Linked DNA regions of Homo sapiens. The protein of the gene in region 2 interacts with the protein of the main gene of each other region in a biochemical or structural test. Each region holds a gene or a part of one and is shown on either strand. Other genes may lie near its edges.

Region 1 (7,138 bases), on a different chromosome or scaffold from region 2:
TAAAGAGGAAAAGAAGAACCATCTCTGGTAGAGGTAACAACACTTGAAGCCACTGTAACCCTAGTATCCATGACTCCCAGCACATACTAAAAAAATTACTACACACAGGCAAGAGGCAAAATTACATGCCTAATAATTAAGACCAAAAAATAAAGATTGAAAGATGACTCTGATCTTAGAGGTGGCAGACAAGGAATTTAAGATAACAATTAGTATGTGAAATAGATAAAAAGATGAATAATTTTACTAGCAAATAGCATAAAGAGCACAATGGACATTCTGGATGTGAACACTACAGTATCTGAAATTAAGAACTCAGTGCATGAATTTAACAAGTTGGACATAGCAAGATACAGAATCAATAAACTAGAAGACAAGTCAATATAAAATACCTAAACTGAAGTGCAAAAAAAATTAAAGGAAGAAACCCCAGATACAGCCATAAGAGATAAATGGAACATGCACAGAAGGCCTAATTATGTATCACTGGAGTCCCAGAAGGACAGGAGAAAGAGAATGGAACAGGGTCATATATTTGAGAAGATAATTAACCAAGAATTTTTCAAACAGATAAAAGACATAACACTACAGGTTGAAGGAGCTCAGCAAATCTCAAGCAGTATAAATCGAGAGAAAACCAAACATAGGCATATTGGAGAAAACTACTGAAACCAAATATAAACGAAAACCCTAAAAGCTGTTGAGGAACAGGACAGGGTCTCAATACCTTCAAACAGCATATCTTAATCCATTCAGGCTGCTATAACAAAATAGTATAGAGTGAGTGACATACATAACAGAAATTTATTTCTCACAGTTCTGTCTGGAGGCTGGGAAGTTCAAGATCCATTTGCCAGAAGATTCCGTGTCTGGTGAGTACCCACTTCCTGATTCACAGATGGCCATCTTTTTGCTGCGTCTTTACATGTCAGAAGGGGACAAGGGAGCTCTCTGGAGTCTCTTTTAAAAGGACACGAATTCCAGCCAGGTGCAGTGGCTCATGCCTGTAATCCTAGCACTTTGGGAGGCTGAGGCAGGTGGATCACTTGAGGCCAGGAGTTCAAGACCAGCCTGGCCAACATAGTGAAACCCCGTCTCTACTAAAAATACAAAAATTAGCTGGGCATGCTGGCACATGCCTATAATTCCAGCTACCCAGGAGGCTTATGCAGGAAAATTGCTTGAACCCGGGAGGTGGAGGTTGCAGTGAGTTAAGATCACGCCATTCACTACACTCCAGCCTGGGCTGTGTCAAAAAAAGAAAAAAAGGAAATACTGAAGAAGAAGAACAAGCAAACCATATAGCAATCCTATTAGAAGATATAATAATTAATATGTAGACTATTGATATAAGGATAGGCAAACTGACAAATGGAAGAGATTAAGATTCCAGAAACAGATTCATATATATAGTCACCAGACTGATGATAAAGATTTCCACTGTGATGGAGCAGGGAAAGGACGGCTTTTCTCCAAATGGCACTGGATCCGTTGAATATCCACACTTCAGGAAGAAAAATGTATGTTGATCTCTACCTCACCAAATATAAATATCAATTCCACATTGATCACAGATCTAAATGTGAAAGGTAAAAGCAAATCTTCCTGATGAAATCATAGAGAACATGACAAAAATTTAGCAAAGATTTCTTAAGATATAGACAGCACTAATTATTTAACAATTGATAAATTAAAACATTAAAACTCTTCTATTTCTCTAACGGCACCATTAATTGAACAAAAGCCAACCCACAAAGGTGGGTAAGATAGTCTTGTTACAAACATCTGACAAAGGCTCATAGCCAGAAAATATGAAGAATTACAAATCAACATTTAAAAAAAACCAGATAACCCAATAGAAAAAAATGAGAAGAACACTTGAGTAGGTGATTTACAAAGACAATATACTTTTGGATAATAACTCTATGAAAAGTGCTTAACTTCATTAGTCATCAGAGAAATGTAAATGGAAATCAGCAATTCTACTCTTGGACATATATTCAAAAGAAAAGAAATCAATGTATCGAGGAGATATCTACACTTCCACGTTTACTGCATCACTATTCACAATGGCCAAAATATGGAATCAACCCAAATGCCCATCAAAGGATGAATGAAGAAAGAAAATATGGCATATATACGCAGTGGAATATTATCCAGCCAAAAAAAAAATGAAATCCTGTCCTTTGCAGCAACATAGATGAAACTAGAAGTCATTATGTTCGGTGAAATAAGTCAAGCACAGAAACACAAATATTATATGTTGTCACTCAACATGTGAAAGTTTAAAAAGTGGATCCCATGATGATAAACGAGCAGACTGGTGGTCACCAGAGGCCAGGAAGAGTGAGGGGAGGGGGAGGAAGAAATGTTGATTAATAGGTACAAAAGTACAGTTTGATAGAAGCAGTAAGACTGAATATAGTTTACAATCATCTATTGTATATTTCAAAATAGTAAAAGGGGAACAATTCAGATGTTTCTAGCATAAAAAAAGACAACTATTTAAAGTGATATATATCCCAATTACACCAATTTGATCTTGACAAATTTTATGAAGATATTAAATTATCACATGTACCTCTATTATGTATCTTTTTTTAAAAAAAAAAAAATTCAACCATGGCGAGATACCGCTATACTCACCACAACAGCTAAAATGAAAAGGATGAAAAATACCAAATCATGTTAAGGTATTGAGCAACTAGAACTCTCATACACTGCTGGCAGTAGGGAAAATTGATACAAGTCTAGTACTTTGGAAAAGTGTTTAGCACTGGCTACAAAAACTATACATAGGCCTGCCATGTGATTTATAAATTCCACTCTTAAGTATATATGCCTAAGAGATATGCGTAGCTACACGACTCAGGACAAAAACCGGAAACTACTAATGCCCACAATGGGTGTTTAGTGGTCTCTTCACACAATAGAACACCATACAGCAATGAGCATGAACAACCTACAACCACATACAACTGTGTGGATGAATCTGACATATACAATGAGTGAAAAACGCCAACACAAAAGAGTACAAACTGTATACTTCCATTTAAATAAAGTAAGAAAATAGATAAAGCTAGCTTAATGATATTAGCAGTTAGGATAGTGAGTACCTGTGCAGGAACAGTGACTAGAAAGGAATATTTGGTCATTTCTGGAGGGTCAGTAATGTGTTTTTCATCTGAGTGCTGGTTACTCATGACTGGCCTGTTTGTAAACATTCCTGATAAAATTTTCAGGCTTCATTTTATTTCCTAAAATAATGTAGCATCATTATTTTTCCATCTATGTCTAATAACTATATTATCTAGAGTCCCTATATGCCTCCCCTGTGTTGGTTCTTGCTATTGGAATCTTCCTTGTGTCTTTTTATCTTTGGGTTTATGTTGGATATTGTGCTTGAAAAATTATTAACAGAAATAATTCTGTTATTTCAGCTCTAAGGTGACATTATGTTCCTCTAAATAGGATTTCTTTCTTGCTTTTGCTTAGTACTTTGGGTCACAGACATCTGGAATCATTCTAGTTGAAGTTTAGTACCTTAAATTTGCCAGACCTCTCCCTACTCAAAGTCAACAGGCAATACATGTAGAGTCCGCTTTATTTTTGGCTTACTGTTACTTTGGCTTACTGTTATATGTATTTTATCTTTTATTTTTTTTTTTTTCAGATGGAGTCTCACTCTGTTGCCCAGGCTGGAGTGCAGTGGTGCCATCTCGGCTCACTGCAACCTCCACCTCCCAGGTTGAAGCGATCCTCCTGCCTCAGTCTCCCAAGCATCTGGGACAACAGGTAAGTGCCAGCACGCCCAACTAATTTTTGTATTTTTAGTAGAGATGGGGGTTTCACCATGTTGGCCAAGATGGTCATGAACTCCTGACCTCAGGTGATCTGCCTGCCTCGGCCTCCCAAATGCTGGGATTTCAGGTGTGAGCCACCACACCCAGCCTTCCTAGGGTATATTTTAGGATTACTGCACAATAAGGAGCTGGTTTATTTCTTGTAAACAAGACTCATTTCCCAAGACCCTCACCTCTAGAGAATAACATCGGAGCAATTATCCATGTTCATCTCAAGAGGCTATCTGGGGATTGCATCCCCAAGTTCTCTCCAAAATGGATAAGCAGACCTGATGTGCTCCCTGTTCATCCCGTTTCTTCATGAATCTAGGATCCAAGACTCAGTTCTCATATCCCACAAATCTCATTGGGGCATCAATAGCCTGAAATCCTGTCTCCTTTTTTACAGAAGCTGAAGACCCAGGCAACAAGTTCTCTGCTCTGTACCTTTAGCCAATAGGATGAGTCTCCAAGACCTATTCAGAAAATAATGCATTCTGGTCTTTTATGACCTGAATGTGTTTTCATCCTGTAGAACAGGAACGTGGAGGAAGCTGAACCAGTGAACTCTGAGAGCAGCACAGAGCAGTGGGTAAGGTCTGTACATCTCAGCCTCATGCTCTTTCTCCCTCTTCTCTCTTATCTTCTCTCTTATCTTCTCTCTTCTCCATTTTCTCTGTCACACAAACATACTCACACACTTTGGGAACTCATGTAATCTCACCTCTTAGTCTTCAAAGGTAATAGAACAATCCCTTGAATCTTAGAAGCACTCTACAGTTTTCAAGGTACTTTCACATTCTCTGTTGCATGTAATTCTCACAGCCTGTGAGAATGACTACCTAGGTGAGAAGAGGGGATTTAGGCAGGTCGTGGGCCCTACTCAAGGTCATACAGCTAGGAAGTAACAGAAGAGGTACAAAGCCCAGTGTTTCCACTGCAAGCTTGGACCCCTTTTCCATATTGCCCCTACAATCTCCCCCCTCACACCCCAGCAACACAACAGAGGGGTCTGTGTCTCTGTGACCATCTGACCACATCAGTGTTCAGAACCCACTGACTCTTACAAACTCAGAGCAGTGTTTCCCAAAGTATAGCATCAGAACTACTGCATGCTTGCTAAAAAGAACTTGGTTCTCAGAAACAGGACTTCAAGAGAGACTTCAGGACTTCAAGAGAGAGAGTCAGAAAGTCAGAAAGTCAGCTTTTTGTTATGAAGCATCACAGGTGATCGTGATGCACATGAGTGCAGGAGATGCTTGCCTTGTGGGTTACAAAGCAGAGGTATCTGGCCAGATGCAATGGCTCACGCCTGTAATCCCAGATACTCAGGAGGCTGAGGCAGGAGAATGGCTTGAACCCGGGAGGTGGAGATTGCCGTGAGCCGAGATCGTGCCACTGCACTCCAACCTGGGCAGAGTGAGACTCCATTTCAAAAAAAAAGAAAGGAAAAGAAAGAAGAAAAAAGGAAGCAAGCAAGCAGAGGGATCAATTTCTCAATTTCCCTGGGAGTTCTCTGGCCTTCCTCAGTCTTGTCACCTGCCCTCTACCCTCCCTCCCATCAGCAGATGTCCCATAGAGCTCTGAATGGTAAGAACAAGACTGCAGAAAGAAGTCATTTGTGATGTGGGAAGCCTGTAATACCGTGTGCCCTCATCTTCTGTCTCCCCTGCAGTTGCACCATGAGGCCTGACACCAGGAGTCCCACCCTGACATCCTGGACCATTCCGGACAGACAGAGTGGGGTCCAGCTGCTCCTGTCTGAGAGGGCAGCAGAACCAGGATAGAGGCAAGACTGGGAACCCTGTTGCTCTTTGTACTGAGAGAGTGGGTTCCCTACTAGAAAGGGGTGGGAAATACAAGTTGGAGGAATGAAGAATAGGAGTCCCTTTGCCACCCCCATCACAGGCCCCTTCCAAGGACAATTAGGCTTTAAGTTTGGAGAGCTGCTTCCACATACAGCATTTCAGCTCTTTCTCCTGACCCCGGGGGAGGTGGGCATTATTGCTGTCCTCCATCCCATGGTAGAATAGTTAGATTGTGAAATCTGGAGGCAGAACGGGGGCTCAAATCCCAATGTGTCAGTTCTGATTGAGTGAATGTGAGAAACTCATTAACCTAAATCTCAGTCACCTCATCTATAAAGCAGGATAACAGAAACAAATAGCTCGTTGTTACAACGATATACGTCGTTGTAAATAAAAGATGTATATACATAGCACCGTAGGTATGTATGTATGTGTGTGTCTAATGAAATCGCAGTTTGTTCAAAAAATGCTTGAATTTGTTACGCTGGGGTTTGAACCCAAACTTCAGACTCAAAATCTCCTTCCACTATGCCACCTACCGTGGACATCTAGGAGTTTAACTTGCTACATTGAGGTAAGGAATTCACTCATTTGATGAATGCTAGGACTGCCATATACCCTCACCCCACCCCAAATCTGGCACTCCAAATTACTTTAATAGTCGAAATTACTCACAGTTCCCTCATCTCCATTTGCTTATTCTGCTGTGACTTCAAATTAACCATGTTTCAGATTGAATTTGCAGAACAGGCTCCATACTTCCCTGGCACACTGGCTGGTTTTCCAAAACATTGCAATAATATGTACAGTAATAATTAATATGTACAGTAATAACTGTACATATTTTGGGGGTACATGTGATATTTTGATACATGAATATAAGTGTAATCATCAAATCAGGATATTTAGGACAGTCATCACCTCAGACATTTATCATTTCATTGTGTTGGGAGCATTCTCTTTGTAGCAATTGTGAATGGAGGTTCATTCATGATTTGGCTCTCTGCTTGTCTATTGTTGGTGTAAAGGAATGCTTATAATTTTTGCACATTGATTTTGTAACCTGAGATTTTGCTGAAGTTGCTTATCGCTTAAGAAGTTTTGGGGTGGAAATGATGGGGTTTTCTAAATATAGAATCATGTCATCAGCAAACAGACAATTCGACTTCCTCTCTTCCTATTTGAATCCCCTTAATTTCTTTCTCTTGCCTGATTGCCCTGGCCAGAAATTCCAATACTATGTTGAGCAGGAGTGGTGAGACAGGGCATCCTTGCCTTGTACCGGTTTTCAAAGGGAATGCTTGCAGCTTTTGCTCATTCAATATGATATTGGCTGTGGGTTTGTCATAAATAGCTCTTATTTTGAGATACGTTCCATCAATACCTAGTTTATTGAGAGTTTTTAACATGAAGGGATGTTGAATTTTATCAAAATGCTTTTCTGCCTCTATTGAGATAATCGTATGGTTGTTGTCTTTGGTTTTCTTT
Region 2 (7,028 bases):
GTACCAAAGAATTCCTAGAGAGAACCCTGTAGTCCTCTGCCAGCAAAGAGATGTTACTGTCTAAATCCGCTGATAAGCTTGTCAGTCATTGGTAGTCCACACTGCTGAGAATACACTAAGAAAATTCAGCAAGAAATGACAATTTACATCTTGCTGGCAAGATTCCAGGTAGTTCAGATAAGGGAAAATTGCATGAAGAAATCCAAATTACTATGAACCTATCTGAACACGTACCTTAGCCATATAAGATAAATAAGCATGCAGCAATTCGATCTCCTAATTACTAATTCACAGATAATGTAACAAGCTACACTATTTAGTTACCATATGTAATTCTATAGGATTCATTGGGGTTATCTTGACAAGTGATATTTTCTCCATGAAAGCATTTTAAAAGGGCTTATTCTTTCAATGAACGTGACTATTTGCTTCTTAATTAACTCATCTACTATTTAAATGCCTCCATTAACTGCTTTTTACTCTGGCACTCAAAAGACTAAACATTAATATTAAGAGCACAAACCAACTTTTACTTTCGTAATAATCCAGAAAGGACATCTGCTTTAAATGTTGTTTTATTTATTTTGTTCGTCACTTCAATTAAGTGATCAGAAGGTACAGACAATATATAAACATTACAAATGACCCAAAAAAGGCTGAGTGGTTCCAGCCAACATAACAGGTTTTCATAACAGAATGAAGACATCTTATTTCTTGATTTCATCTGACCTTATAGCTTAGCTGCATGAGCTAAAGCTGTGTTGACCAACACAGTAGCCAGGAGCCACACTGAAACACACTACTGGGCACTTACACCTTGGCTAGTTCTAAAGGCAATATGATAAAAGACATGGGTAAAAGACATGGCATATTTTGGAGAGCTTTTTTTTTTTTTTAAGAAAGTAAAATATCTCAACAATGTTTACACTGATTATATTTTGAAAGAATAATTTGAAGAAACTGGGTTAAACAAAATATATTATTAAAATTAATTTCACCTACTTCTGCTTTTTTCTTCACTGTGGCTACAGACAACTTAAAATTACATATGTGGCTCACATGATATTTCCATTGGCCAGAGCTGATCTAGAATGATGCAGATCTTCCCCTCTCCAACTCTTGGGGTGTTTGATGATCTGAATTGTAACATATACAGAATGGCAATTATTTGAATAATTTCAGCACCAAATTACTCCTTTGTTATCCAATTCACTATATGACTGTCATATACATTTGTCACAGGAGTGACAGATCTATCAAACATGGTAAGAATTACAGAAAACATGCAAGTGGGTGAGGAATATTTAGCAAGCAGTCAAAATAAAGCATTGGGTTCAATACTGAAACTACTGTGCTGTGCTTAAACTCTTCATACGGTAGGATACAAAAGTTTATGGAAAGCCTCAATAATCTCCTGACTTTTTACTTAATCATCTCCTATCTTTCAAAATTAAATATTTTTAAATCTTTTTTACAATTACCGGTAGTATTTTTTAAACTATTGACTTACATATTTTGTAGCTCCAACATTTAAATAAGGGCCTTTAAATTTTCTATGTTATGTTTATCAAAATGGGGCATGAATTTAAGAAGACTGAGAAACACCATCAAATACAAAAGTCGGACTCACACAGTTGAATCCAAAGGGGATCAGAACATGCCACTCCAAAATATGCTACTTTGGCATCAGTATTATTTTGAACTGAAGGCAAATAGGAAACGGAAGACAGGAGCACTCTCTCCCCTGGCCCTTTCTGTGTAAAAGTAGAACACAAAATTCCCTTTGTAAATGTGACAGAAATGTCCGTTTGTAAAGATGATCATCTCTCCCTTACCAGTGAGAACAACTTTTATCATGAAAATGATGCAAAAACCCCAAATCTATCCTCTTCTTTGGGTCTCTTCTTTTCTGCGTAGCCCCCATGAATATGAAATTAAAAACATCAATTAAATGTTAATCTGTGTTCTGTTAGTTTTAATTCACAGGCCTCACTTATAGAACCTCAAAGAGTAAAATTTTTCCTCCCTCACAAAACCAAGAATGAATACGCACCATAAGACAACGGAAGTGCAGGAGAGTTCTAAATGACTTAAAAACTCTTTAATGGTATATCCATGCAATGACTACTACTCAGCAATGACCAGTACTGAACTATGAATACAGGCAACATGGATGAATCCCAAAATAATCACATAGTGAAAGAAGTCAGACAAAAGAGAACATACTGTATGATTCCATGTATTTAAAGCTCTAGAGAACGCAAACTAATCTACAGTGACATAAAGCAAATGAGTAGTTTACTTGGAGATGGGAGGGGTGGGTAGAGGAAAGGACTACCAAGATGCATGAGGAAACTTTCGGGGGTGATGGATATGTTCACTATCTTGATTGTGGGGGATAGCTTCAAAACAGCCAAAATTCAACAAATTGTACACTCTCAATATGTGTAGTTTATTGTCAATTATGACTTATACCACAATAAAACAGTTAAACAATTATAACTTATACCACAATAAAACAGTTAAACACTCCCTCCCACCTCCTTGAGAAAAGGATAGGGGCTGAATAGGTTGACTTTAGCATCCAACAGATGTTCACTGAACATCTTAATGAAGCTAGCTAGGGAGCAATAACCCAGGCCCCAGGGCTATTTCTTCTCATTTTCCTCCCTCAGCCAAAGAGCTAAAAATACTTTGTGACTTAGTCTAACCCGATATATATTCAATAGATTAAATCAGAATGAAGAGCCATTCCAATGCTATAGTTTTGTAAAACAGCATAGGATAACTGCATTTCCTAGCCCAGAAAACTGTGAATGTGATGGGAAAGGGTTGGAAGGGTCAGACAACACTCCACTGAATCATATCGATGAGGCCCCTGTAATCCCAAATTAGAAAATGAGGCCGAGCGTGGTGGCTCACTCCTGTAATCCCAACACTTTTGGAGGCTGAGGCGGGGAGATCACCTGACCTGAGGTCAGGCGTTCAAGACCAGCCAGGCTAACATGGTGAAACTCTGTTCCTACTAAAAAAAAAAAAAAAAAAAAAGAAGAACAAAAGAAAATGAATGCTGTCCAGAAGTGGATTCAGGCCTGACTTATTAAAATGCAATACCCTGGGACACTTGTGGGGAGTGAGAAGCCGAGGAGGAAATACATAAGCTTTATGAAATTTACCCAGTAATGCCTTAGACAAAGCAAGACCTATTAAGGGGGCTGCTATGGTCTGAATGTTTATATTCCCCCCAAATTCATATGTTGACATCCTAACCCCCAAAGTAATGGTATTAGGGGGTGGGGTCTTTGGGAGGCAATTAGATCACAAGGGCAGAGTTCTAATGAATGGGATTAGTGCCCTTATAAAATAGGTACCAGAGAGCAGCCTTGCCCCTTCCATACCATATGAAGACACAGCAACACGGCATCATCTATGAGGCCCTCACCATTCACAGAATCTGCCAGTGCCTTGATCTGGTACTTCCCAGCCTCCAGAACTATGAGAAATAAATGTATGTTTATAAGGGACCCAGTGTTTGATATTTTGTTATAGCACCCGAAATGAACTAAAACAGGGGCCTAGCAAGGTATAAGAGAAACTGGACATATCTTAAATATATCGGAAAGGAGTTTTTAAATTGTAGAATAATCTTTAATCTTTATGACTCTATCATCATGGTTTTGTTACGTTAGTGATATCTTATGAACACAGAAGGATAGCTTCTCATGACCATTTTCTATGACAGTTCCCTGAAGCAAGGTATCCTATGGAGCCACCTGAGTACACAATATAAAGTTACTGTGAAATTAACAATATAGTGAATTGGTTAACAAAGGAGTAATTTGGTGCTGAAATTATTCAAATAATTGCCATTCTGTATATGTTACAATTCAGATTATCAAACACACCAAGAGTTGGAGAGGGGATGATCTGCATCATTCTAGATCAGCTCTGGCCAATGGAAATATCATGTGAGCCACATATGTAATTTTGTCTGTAGCCACAGTAAAGAAAAAAGCAGAAGTAGGTGAAATTAATTTTAATAATATATTTTATTTAACCCACTTTCTTCAAATTATTATTTCAACATATAATCAGTATAAACATTGACTATTAACACTTAATTTTAAGCAGAAATCAAAATTTTTTAAAATACGTTCTCCACTGGTATCCTACATGCCACGTGGTAGTGAACTGTATCATATCTCTTCAAAAGACCTGAGACATCAGTTCAAACAAATGCTATTAGTATCAACTCAAATTATATAACATTTAATAATCTCAGATCAGATGATGCTCATTTAGAAAGGCAGCAATTGGTGAAATCTATTGATCAACAGCTGCTCTATCCATTTGTTATATCAAAATAACTTAAATATCTTCATTTTCAAAATATGTGTCTTGGGGATTTTCTTGTGGGAGTGGTATCTGGGTGATCTAATTACAGGCAAGCTTTCCGTCTTCTTTTCACTTGTATCTTCCATACCTTTTAAAATGTGCTATTTACTAAAATAAATAATTACCTTATGTATTTTATTATCAAAATAATTTTAAAACATAAGCAACAACATTAAGTTTTTTCTTAATTTTTTTTTTTGGTAGTTGATGTTACTGGGTTTTTTTTCTTCTTTTTTAATAAATGTTTCATTTTTCACTTTCCCCTCATGCACTTATTTATAGCACCTTGGATCTGGAGGCAGAGTGGTTTACAAGAAAATAACAATGAATGTTGCTTTTGCAGACACAAATAAAACTAAAAAGTGGATAAAGATAAGAATTCCCTAAACAAAACAAATTTAACCACCACAGGCAGACAGGCCAGAAGAAAAAAAGTAAGAGTTTGTCTCCTTTTATTTATTTATTTATTTTTAACTTAGCTGGCCAGATTGGGAAGAATGGCTCTAATGGTTTCATTAACTCAACAAATAAAATTGCAACACCTAAAAAACAAAAAAAAAAAAAAGTTTTTATTTTATGTAACATAAATTCCCTTTTATTAATCATATTTTCCCAAAAGGGGGAAACATTTCTGAAGGAAAAAAGATTATGCCATACATTACCCCACAAAACACGTATAAGACAGACAGTTTTTAGATCAATGGAATTTAAAGAATAAATTCTGTTGTTTTAATCAGACTCAAAAACCACTGAGACATTTACAACACAGTGTTTCAGCTTTGCCAAATTTAGCGCTTTACTATTTTTAAGAACCATTAAAAGAAATATTTTAAGAAAACGAATGCTTTTATAAAACACTTAAAAAAAAAATTAATGCTCTGTCCACAAAAAGGCCACAGAGGCACAATTTCCCAATGAACATCCAGAGAAAGAAAATAAGTGGCCTCAGGCCAAAGATAAAATACCTTTGTCCTCAAATAGCAGCTTCCCTTTCTTGCCAAACATCAAATTACCCCAGTAATGCTCAGACTATGCACTAGCCTCCAATACGAGCTCACTGCCTCAGAGTCTCACTAGTTTACACACTAAGTCTCTTTGAGAACCTTGTTATGAGCTAAACTGTGTCTCCTAAAAATTCACAGGAAATCCTAATCCCTGTACCTCACAATATAACTGTATTTGGAGATAAAGGTTAAATGAGGTCACTAGGGGTGGGCTCTAACACAATATGACTGGTTCCCTTATAAAAAATTAGGCTATAGACATACACAGAGGGAGGGCATGTGAAGAAACAGGGAGAACTCAGCCATCTACAAGCCAAAGAGCGAGGCTTGGTAGAAACCAATCCCACCAACACTTTGATTTTAGACTTCCAGCCTCCAGAACTGTGAGGAAATAAATTCCTGTGGTTTCAGCCACCCACTCTGTGTTATTTTGTCAAGGCAGCCCTATCAAACTAATACAGATTTTGGTACCAGGAAATGGGGTGCTGCTGTAACAAACACCAAAAATGTGGAAGTGGCTTTGGAACTGGGTAATAGGTAATGGCTACAAACGTTTTAGGGTGCATGTTAGAAAAAGCCCAGATTGCACTGAAGAGGTTAACTCTCAGAAGGAAATGTGACTTGGGTTATTGGAAAGTGGAAACTTCAAGAGATAAAAGTCAGCCTATACTTCATTGCTCTCCATTAATTGCTCTTCCCTATCCAACCTTTTCCCCTGGGCACAAATCCTCTATTCCACTCCAGAAATATACAAATTGAATATGCTCTCCAGTACCCACTGCCCACTCACATCCCAGCCTCTTCTATACATGTCCATTTTCAAGGGAAAACCACTGACTTAAGCTCTACTTCATATCAAAAAAACTTTCATTTCCACCCTCTCATCTCAAGACCAAAGCCTTTCTGTGTCTTATTTACTAACCTCAATGATAAGAGCAACTAATCCCTATACTTCACTACTTTCCTAGAATCCCTGTAACATTTTTAACATGTAAAACCTTTCTGTTATTTCTCCCATTAGATTCCTCCAACTAAGACCCTACACTTCTGGAGCAGAATCATGTTTATTCTGTACTCTCCCCAATGCCTAACCCAATACAACATTCTTCCTAATCCATCTATTACTACCTACTACATGAATACCTCGGATCTTCTCTGGAAACGTATCACAGGAAGGCAATGGATTCCTCACCACTGGTTTCCTTTATCGAGAAGTAGTTATTTACCTCCTTAGTCTTATTCTCCCACATGGAATCCCACTAAAATTATTTAATCACAGTATATCAATTTTACCATGCTAAATATCATTTCCGAACTGTACTTATATAAATGCTCTCCTATGCATGACACTAATTTACAAGAAAAAATGAAACCTTTATTGTTATAAATATGGGGTTGATAATGTACGTAACAATATCAAATGAAATCCTACTTTAGGCCAAATATCTATTTTCAAAAGTACATACAACTGTTTTGGACATATATCATCACTCATACGCACCATCAAGCAGTCCTAAATTCACCAGGAAGTTGTCTGCTTCTTCTCTTTAAAGTGTAGGATCTTTCTCTGGCAGATGTGCTATTTGCTCTACCATATTTGGGGACATTCCAGTCCAACTTTGCCTCAAA

What was found. Proteins that work in one complex are often made in the same cells at the same time.
Region 1: the proteins of MPDZ (region 2) and OR1D2 interact in a test that uses a peptide from one of them, tested with the Homo sapiens proteins (one study listed by IntAct).

Annotation. Positions count from the first base shown.
Region 1 is NC_000017.11:3,101,400-3,108,537, reverse strand, and holds the start of OR1D2 (olfactory receptor 1D2), read left to right. Parts: upstream 1-4,115; 5' UTR 4,116-4,439; intron 4,440-7,138. UniProt on the Homo sapiens protein: Odorant receptor which may be involved in sperm chemotaxis. Bourgeonal is a strong chemoattractant for sperm in vitro and is shown to be a strong agonist for OR1D2 in vitro. May also function in olfactory reception.
Region 2 is NC_000009.12:13,269,674-13,276,701, forward strand, and holds part of MPDZ (multiple PDZ domain protein), read right to left. Parts: exon of another isoform or gene 6,901-7,028; intron 1-6,900. UniProt on the Homo sapiens protein: Member of the NMDAR signaling complex that may play a role in control of AMPAR potentiation and synaptic plasticity in excitatory synapses. Promotes clustering of HT2RC at the cell surface.